Linked DNA regions of Homo sapiens. The protein of the gene in region 1 purifies or fractionates together with the protein of each later gene. This does not show direct contact. Each region holds a gene or a part of one and is shown in the gene's direction. Other genes may lie near its edges.

Region 1 (3,500 bases):
GGAACTTTAAACCAGTGGCTCCCAGGCAACCTCAGCTAAGCCCTTGCAATGTTTAATTAAATTACCCACCATCCTTAAGCCATAATTCAAAGCTGGGAACCAGAAACATCCCCATAAACAAAAGAGATCTGGAAGTCCCCTGCCCAGAGGCGATTCCTCTCCTTTTTTGTTGCCTCCTCTGTATGGGGACATTTCCTGACATGAGAGCTTTGTCTTTTTAGAAGTTGCTTGCTCTGCTGCTGATAGAGTCCTCAGGCTCTCCACTCGCCTGGGCTCCTGACCTCATCCAGCCTGTCTCCAGGGAGATGGCTGGGAGGTCCCAGACACCCGTCTGCCCGCCTCTGTTTGCCCTGGGCCCTTCTCCTTCCCCAGACTGCCTAGAGGTCTGATCTTATTTGCATTCTATGCCAGTCTTCTCTAGGCATTTTGGGCTAGAGAATCTGGAATAAGGGTAGAGATGGGGTGAGATAGATGGGACTGGCTCTTGGCCACTTCCAAAAGCCTCGGTGGGCCCCTCTCCACCTGCCATCATTTACCTTGACTGGGTTGTCCTTTTTCTGTTGTAGGGCAGTGACTGAAGAGCTTTACTTCAGCATCACTTTCCCCTGTACCTTTCAGCATGCCTGACCCTACCAACTCCAGGTTTTCAGTAGCAGGATGCGGAAGATCCAGGCTGAGAGTGGAGACAAACAACTGTGGCTCTCATTCCAGGCTCACTGTTTACTCCGTGACCTTGACCAAGTCTCTAAATGGTCAGGCCTCATTTTTTTTTTTTTTTTTAGAATGAAGAGCAGGCTTAAGATTTCTTCTTTCCCTCTTTTTCTTTCCTCCCATCATGCAGATCAACAGGTGAATGGGTTGGCCCCTGTGCCAGTGATGATACTGATAAGCACAGGGTAAAGGAGCGTTCTTTCCAGCTCTGAGTTTTCTGTGCAGGTTTTGCCTTCTTTATGTCTTTTAAAGTGGTGAGAAGTGTCAGATGGAGAGAAAGAGCATGGGCTGAATTAAATGATTTGACAGAAGCTGAGTTTTAGCCCCGCCACAAAACCCTCTACCCTATGTTAGCATAGAAGTGGAGGAGGCAGGCATCATGATGACCACATGATAATTACAATGTGCAGGATGCACCATGTGTCTGCATCATGGCAAGCACCTTGCACACACTATCTTGTTTAATCCTCACAACAATCTTATGAAGAACCTATTATTATCCCCATTTTATAAGTAAGGAAACAAATTGAAAGTGATTAAGTTGCTCAAGGGTTTACAGCTAGTCAATGGCAGGGCCGAGATTCTGAATTAGGTGCCCTATGTCCTATTTCTACATTCAGTAAATAGTTATGGAGCAACTATTTAGCGCAGTCACTGTTCCAGACATGTGAGATATAGCAATAATAGAGCATCCAAATATTTCTTTGTCCTTACGGAAAATTCTGGTGGGCGTGGGGGATGCTGGTAAGAGCGGCCTGGGATTTCTTGGACCTAGCGCATGCCCTAACGGCAGTGAGTCACTTACATAGATGTGTGTAACATGCCCCAGAGACCTCAGTGCATGCCTGGAAGGCATGGCCTTCCACTTCCCAGAAGCTGAAAGGTTTTGGGTGCTTTGTAACGCAGGTGGAAAATCTGTAAAAAACTGATTTTCTTTCTCCTTCTTCATCCTTAGTTTATGAACATCCTCAATCCCTATCCTACTGGAGCCCCTTTCCTTGGGTTACTTCACAGATTATCTGGTTTATAATACTGATTCTAGAAAAGTCGAGAACTAGCACATCCAAAATAGGGTGGTCTCTGAAAATAATCAGCGAGTAAAATCCCACCATGTCTATTGTCTCAACACTTTGGTTCTGAGGTCTGCATGCTATCTCTGACTCTCTGTAGCGTTGAATTGAACTCAACAACTTTCCCTCCAAAACCAGCTCTTCCTCTTGACATCCCTCTGACACCATTTTACCACTTTCCCATGGTCCAAACCCAGGATTCTTTGACTCATTCTGTCATTTAGAATCTTATTTGGGCACCTAATAGGTACAGGCACATAGACCCTGTAGCCCAACAGCTGAAATTTGAGTGTACCCATGCACCACTCAAGGTGGCCATTCACATGCAGATTCCCATGCCCAGGCCCTGGAGATGCTGGCCTGTAGGTCTCAAGGGCACTGCTGATTCAATTCATACCCCAGGAGATTCTGACGGAGGCGATCCTCAAACCTCACTTGGAAAGCATTCAGCTACTCATGATCAAGTCTTACCCATTTTTTTCTCTGTAAGGTCTCTCCAGTTTGTCACCTTCTTTTCATTTTCTATGCCAACACCTCTCCACTCACCTGGAACTAATGGACAGAGTGGCTCTGGTCTTGCCCCTCTTTTCTTAACAAACTTCACTGGCTCTTCATTGATTACAAATTAAATCTATCATAGTCTGACATTTCAGACCTTCCATACCCTCTCTGGCTCTAACATATCTTTCCAGGATTGTCTTCTTCTATGCCTTATATTTCCCTCCAATCTGCCAAACAGAGGCTACCTCTATCCTCATGCATTCCTTTAGAGTTCTCTGACACCCTTCACCCCCCCAGCTAGCCTTGAGGTCCCTTCTTCTGAAACACTGTCCTTTGCCATTTTTACCTCTCAAAATTCTTTTTGTTATACGAGTCCATGCCATTTGTTATTCATTTCTTAAAACATTCTCCACACCTTGAAATGCTTTCCAAACCATCATTACTTCATTTATTGAATCAATATTTTGGAGTGCCTAGGACATGCAGGCATAGAGAATACAGCCATGAGCACATACCTTGATGCCCACTCTCATGGTACTCACTCTCTAGTGAAGGGGACAGATATTCATCAAATTAGCCACACAAATACATATGTAACTGCACATTGAGATGAATGCTATTAAAATTTTTTTAAAAGGAACAAGAATTTCACCTGGCCAGGACTGCCCAGGGGGCCTCCTTGAAGAAATAAGCTCTTCCTGTGGGAAGAGCTATGGAAAAGATGCCAGAGTTTTGGGGAGGAACCAGCATTGTGAAGAGGCCCAGAATCAGAGAAGCCTGGCAATGAGGAGAGATTGAAGGCCAGTGTAGCTGAAATGTGGGCAGTTAGGCTATGAGGGGGCCATGTATGTTGGTGGGTAGGGGGGATTTAGATTTCAACCTAATGGGAAGTCATGGAAGGGATTTACGCAGGGAAGGGACATGGTCAATTTTCCTGCCAACATGCATTTTGTTGGCATTCTCCTTGTGATACGTTCTGCCTCATAAATAGTCATTCACACACTTGTCTTCTAACCCTGTTTCAGACTGAAAGCTAATTGAGGAATGCTTGAATCTGCATTCCCCATAGCAGTTAATGAGTGCTCAGGGATATGTGATAAATGATTAAATATTAAAGTAGCCAGAAGTCTTCAATCAGTCACAGCAGTTTCTGGAGCCCTTGCAACTGCCAGACACTGCATTAGGCACTAAGAATGCAAAGAGCTCCACAGTGGCATT
Region 2 (4,146 bases), on another chromosome or scaffold:
GTAATGAGAAATGGGTTCCTATGTTGAGTGGGGCAGAACAAAAGCCACATACAACCTAGATTTTACGTAGTGCCGGAAAAAAAAATACTGACCATCTTGTCCAAAAGTCTCATATTTGGAGAATTAAAATAGTTTTGGTCGAGGCCATGATGTTCTCGGTAACCTAAATTAATTTATAAAATTCTTTGTTCCCTTTATTTCCCACAAAAACACCCGCAGCAAAAACGCTGGGATTCATCTGGGCCCTCTGAAAACCGTGTTTCCGACGCAACCGCCCATTAGAAAAACACAATTCCAAATTAAAAACCCGGAGAACTGAGCGGCGGGGCTGGCGCCACCGTCCCGGGACAGCGCGGCCTTTCCCAGCCACACCCCTGCGCGCCGCCGGCCTCCTTCCCCGGCAGTTCCCAAAGATAAATAAATGCTCCTTGTTTTTCCAGACCTGAAATTAACGGTGACTCACAGAGCACTCTGCATGGCCACGGTCGCCTCGGGAAGGAGGAAAAATGTGCAGACTTTTTTCCCCTCACGCGAGGGCAGGACAAGCCAGACTGGGCCAATCAGGGGAGGGCGGCGGGAATCGCACCAAAGTAGGTAAAAAATGCGGGAGGCGTCCCCGCTGCCGCGGCCCGCGACTCCGCTCCCGTGGGTCCTCCCCCAGTGCGTTCCCCCTCCTCGGGCCCTGCCCTCCCAACCCCCAACATCTCTCTCCTTCCACCACTGTGTCCCTCTCCCTCACCTCTCCCCTTGCCCCCACCTCCCCCACTAAGTGCCCCCTCGCCCCTCCCCCCACATCCCCCTCCTCTCCCCACACTGTCCCCTCTCCCTCACCTCTTCCCTCCCCTCTCCATCCTCCTCCTCCCCCAACTATGTGCCCCTCGCCTCTCCCCTCCAAATCCCCCTCCTTCCCACACTCTGTACCCCTCTCCCCCGGCTCTCCCCTCCTTTTCCCCTCCACGGCCTCGCCCCGCCCCAGCGGCAGGCACACCTGGCCAGGTGGCTGCCTCCCCGCGCGGGCCATGCCTGCACAGTGGGTGGGGCGTCAGGTGGCCCCGCCGAGGAGGCGAAGGAAGGCCACCCCTCCCCCATCATCTTTTGCCCGCCCCTCGCCAGCAGGAGCCAGCCCAGTCCGCCTTCTAGCCTCCTGCAGACCAGAGAGGACGCACCCCCACCCCTAAACACTTTCTGGTGAGGCGGACCCTGCCCCGCAGCCTTCAGCAGATGAGGGAAGCTCCCCTCCGAGACTCTGGATAGCCGCCGGGGGGGCGTTGCCTGGCCGGCTGGTTGCGTAGCAACGGCAGGCGGTGCGTGACGTGCGCAGCCGCGTTCCGTCCTGAGGCGCGCCCGCCCCGGGGTAAGCTCGCGCCGCCGCGTCAGCTCAGCGCTGGGTCTCTCGGTCCCGCAGCCGTGAGGAGGACGGTCTGCATACTCGCTGCCCGCCGGCTCCCTCCCCCGCGTCCCTGCGACCGCCGCGGCGAAGATGGTGAGTAGGAGGGAGGCCGAGGCGTGGGCCGAGGCGGCCGGGAGCAGTGTGTCTCTGGGGCGCCGCGGAGTCGGGGCTAAGGGGGTGAGCCGTGCCTCAGCCCGGGGAGGGACCCGGTCCGGCTGCAGTGTCCGGGCTGCGGGTGAGGGGGGGTCTCTGGGCCTCCGTCTCCCGCCGTCCTGGCTGGGCCCCCGCGCCCCGGGGTGGATCCGCGGCTGTTGCGCAGCTCCCAGCTGGGGCGAGGCCGCCGCCCTGAGCGTGGCCTCTGCGGGTGTCTCCAGACCCGGCCTTGCAACAACTGGCTGGGGTCGAGCGCCCCCACCCGCTCTGTGAAATCCATCCGGGGGTCTGCACACCGAGGCCGGGGAGTGGGGGGCGGGGGGCGTCGGAATCCGGCCACCGTCCTTGTTGGCGTGGGTTTCCCCAGAGCTGGCGCTGAGGCGCTTGGTGACTTGTGCGCGTTCCAGCCCTTGAGGTCTGTCCATCTCAATAAGGAAGATAAAGCCTTTATGGAACAGTCCTAGAGCACGGAATGATCGCTAACGAGCAGGATCCTGGCATGATTTAGAACGGGGTGGCCTTGCAGCTCCTTTGTTTTTTTCTTTTTATCTGGCAATCGGCTTCCAGCAGCACTCTCGTCGTGCTTGTCAAGCTTGGCAGTGTCTGTTTTAACCCTTCCCTGCCCGATCTGTCCGTGTATGGTTAGAATTTTTTTTCTGACCTGTAGACAGTTGGACTCTGCCAGAACTTGGTGCGCAAGGTGTGGGCATGATGCTGGGATGCTGATACAACCAAATTTAAGAGCTTTAAAAACCATTAAAATACTGGAGTCACCAGAAAGTAAACAGGTGCTCATTAGTATATTCTATATGATGGACATTTTGCTTAATTTACATATTTTCCCCCTTTACACTGTCACTCTAATTAGCTATTTAAAAACGTATTCTCAACTGAACTATCAGTTGGAACATTTTGTCGTTTTCGTTAGTGTGCACACACTGTTACCATTTTTGGTCAGTGATTTGCAGGCGTAGCCTTACCAGACTTTGCTAGAAATATTACACTGTAATTGCATCTGTCTAGAAGCAGTTGGTACCAGCTTATCTGCATACAAACTGTTTTCACTGTATAACAGTTTTGGTTTTCTTAAGTTACTACAACTTCCGTGAACATGCAGGCGGCCCCTTAGTGAAAGAAAAGATAAACCGGTAGTTTCTTGATGACTGTAGATATGTATGTAATAGGGATTTGATACTGTTCAGTTTTTGGTTCTTCTTTGGTTTAATGCTGTAAGCTACAAAGTATCAGCATCTTGAGTCTTTTTAATATCTAATTATTAGAAATTTAATAACATTTTAAATGTATATGCTACTTTATACTGAAAGACTTAATCTAGGGGCTTTGAGTTATGGTACGCTTAAGACCATTCACTCTGTGAAAGTGCTTTGAAGCTGACTAGGGTCTGCTCTAGAGACTTCTGATTTGACATTATGCTTTTTTATTGAGTGGCTAATACAGACTTTATTTTTCTGTTTGAAAATAAGAGACCAAACATTTTACCTTTAGTTAAATGCTTAGTTTTAGTTAAAGCTTAACTAAATTCAAGGAAGGAAGGGTCTGTTATATTTCCTGGTTCTTGTGAGGAGTGGGAGAAATAAAAATTAGAAATGAGCGATTTCCAAATACGCTTCAAAATTGTTGGCTTTAGGGAGATCAAGAAGACCTTACAAGTTACTCTTAGAGTTCAGATTATAGACCCCCCATTTTTAAAGGTTATTTTTGTTTTTAGCCTTATGAGCGCAGGAGCATCTTTGTTTAGTTCAGTGATTAGAGAATATTGTGGGTATTATCCCAGAGTCTAGCACTTTGCTTTTAGCTCTTTTGGTTAGATGCTTGGTTCCAAGTTTCTTTTAAGATTAAATTTTAACTACCGATGGGTTTGTTCTAAATTAGCAGAATCACTTCCTTGTACTCACCAAGTCTTTTAGAAGCACCTGAAATAAAGCAGTTTGAAACCAGCTGGGCGCTTCAGGATGAGATTAGATGTTTTCAGATGTCTCCTCCAACAAAAAACAAACAACGTCTGCCTCCACGTGAACCACAATTACAGACCCCAAACAAAACGTGTGTGTGTGTGTACTGGGTGTGCCAGCCTCCTTATACAGAGATTGTTTAGTAGCCCATCATCAAGTTACTAAGGTTATTTGCTCAGTAGTTCTACTGGATATGGATTGAGACATCACACCTAGACTTGCCTAGCTCCTCTTGTAACCAGAGTATCTTTTATGCTTCTTGGAAAGTAAGAGTGTAGTCTTGCCCCTGAAGTAGAGTTAAAAGGTTTGCACGATAATCTAACCCTTAACCTTATCCTAATCTGGACTGTGGTCTCACAGACTGAACTAATTGGCGCAGTATTCAAGTATTCTAATACTTGGTGATTAGCAAAAACACTACAACCCAGTGAAATAGGTTGGGCATGTATTCACATGCCTATTTAACATATGAGAAAACAGATTGTAAAGGATTAATTGACTTGAGACAAATCACCTTTTCCAACTCCAAGTTTTAAAATAATAATTTTGAAACATTTTAAGCAGAAAAGTACACAGAATAACAGATCCTTTTGTACAGGAAAAACAGGGCTATCTTATTGCCATATTTCA

Evidence for each region.
Region 2: the proteins of DTX4 (region 1) and DSTN purify together in Homo sapiens (affinity purification with mass spectrometry, with the first as the bait; one large-scale study listed by BioGRID). This does not show direct contact.

What each region holds. Positions count from the first base shown.
Region 1 is NC_000011.10:59,175,132-59,178,631, forward strand, and holds part of DTX4 (E3 ubiquitin-protein ligase DTX4), read left to right. Parts: intron 1-2,704; exon of another isoform or gene 2,705-3,500. UniProt on the Homo sapiens protein: Regulator of Notch signaling, a signaling pathway involved in cell-cell communications that regulates a broad spectrum of cell-fate determinations.
Region 2 is NC_000020.11:17,568,729-17,572,874, forward strand, and holds the start of DSTN (destrin), read left to right. Parts: upstream 1-1,346; 5' UTR 1,347-1,480; coding exon 1,481-1,483; intron 1,484-4,146. UniProt on the Homo sapiens protein: Actin-depolymerizing protein. Severs actin filaments (F-actin) and binds to actin monomers (G-actin). Acts in a pH-independent manner.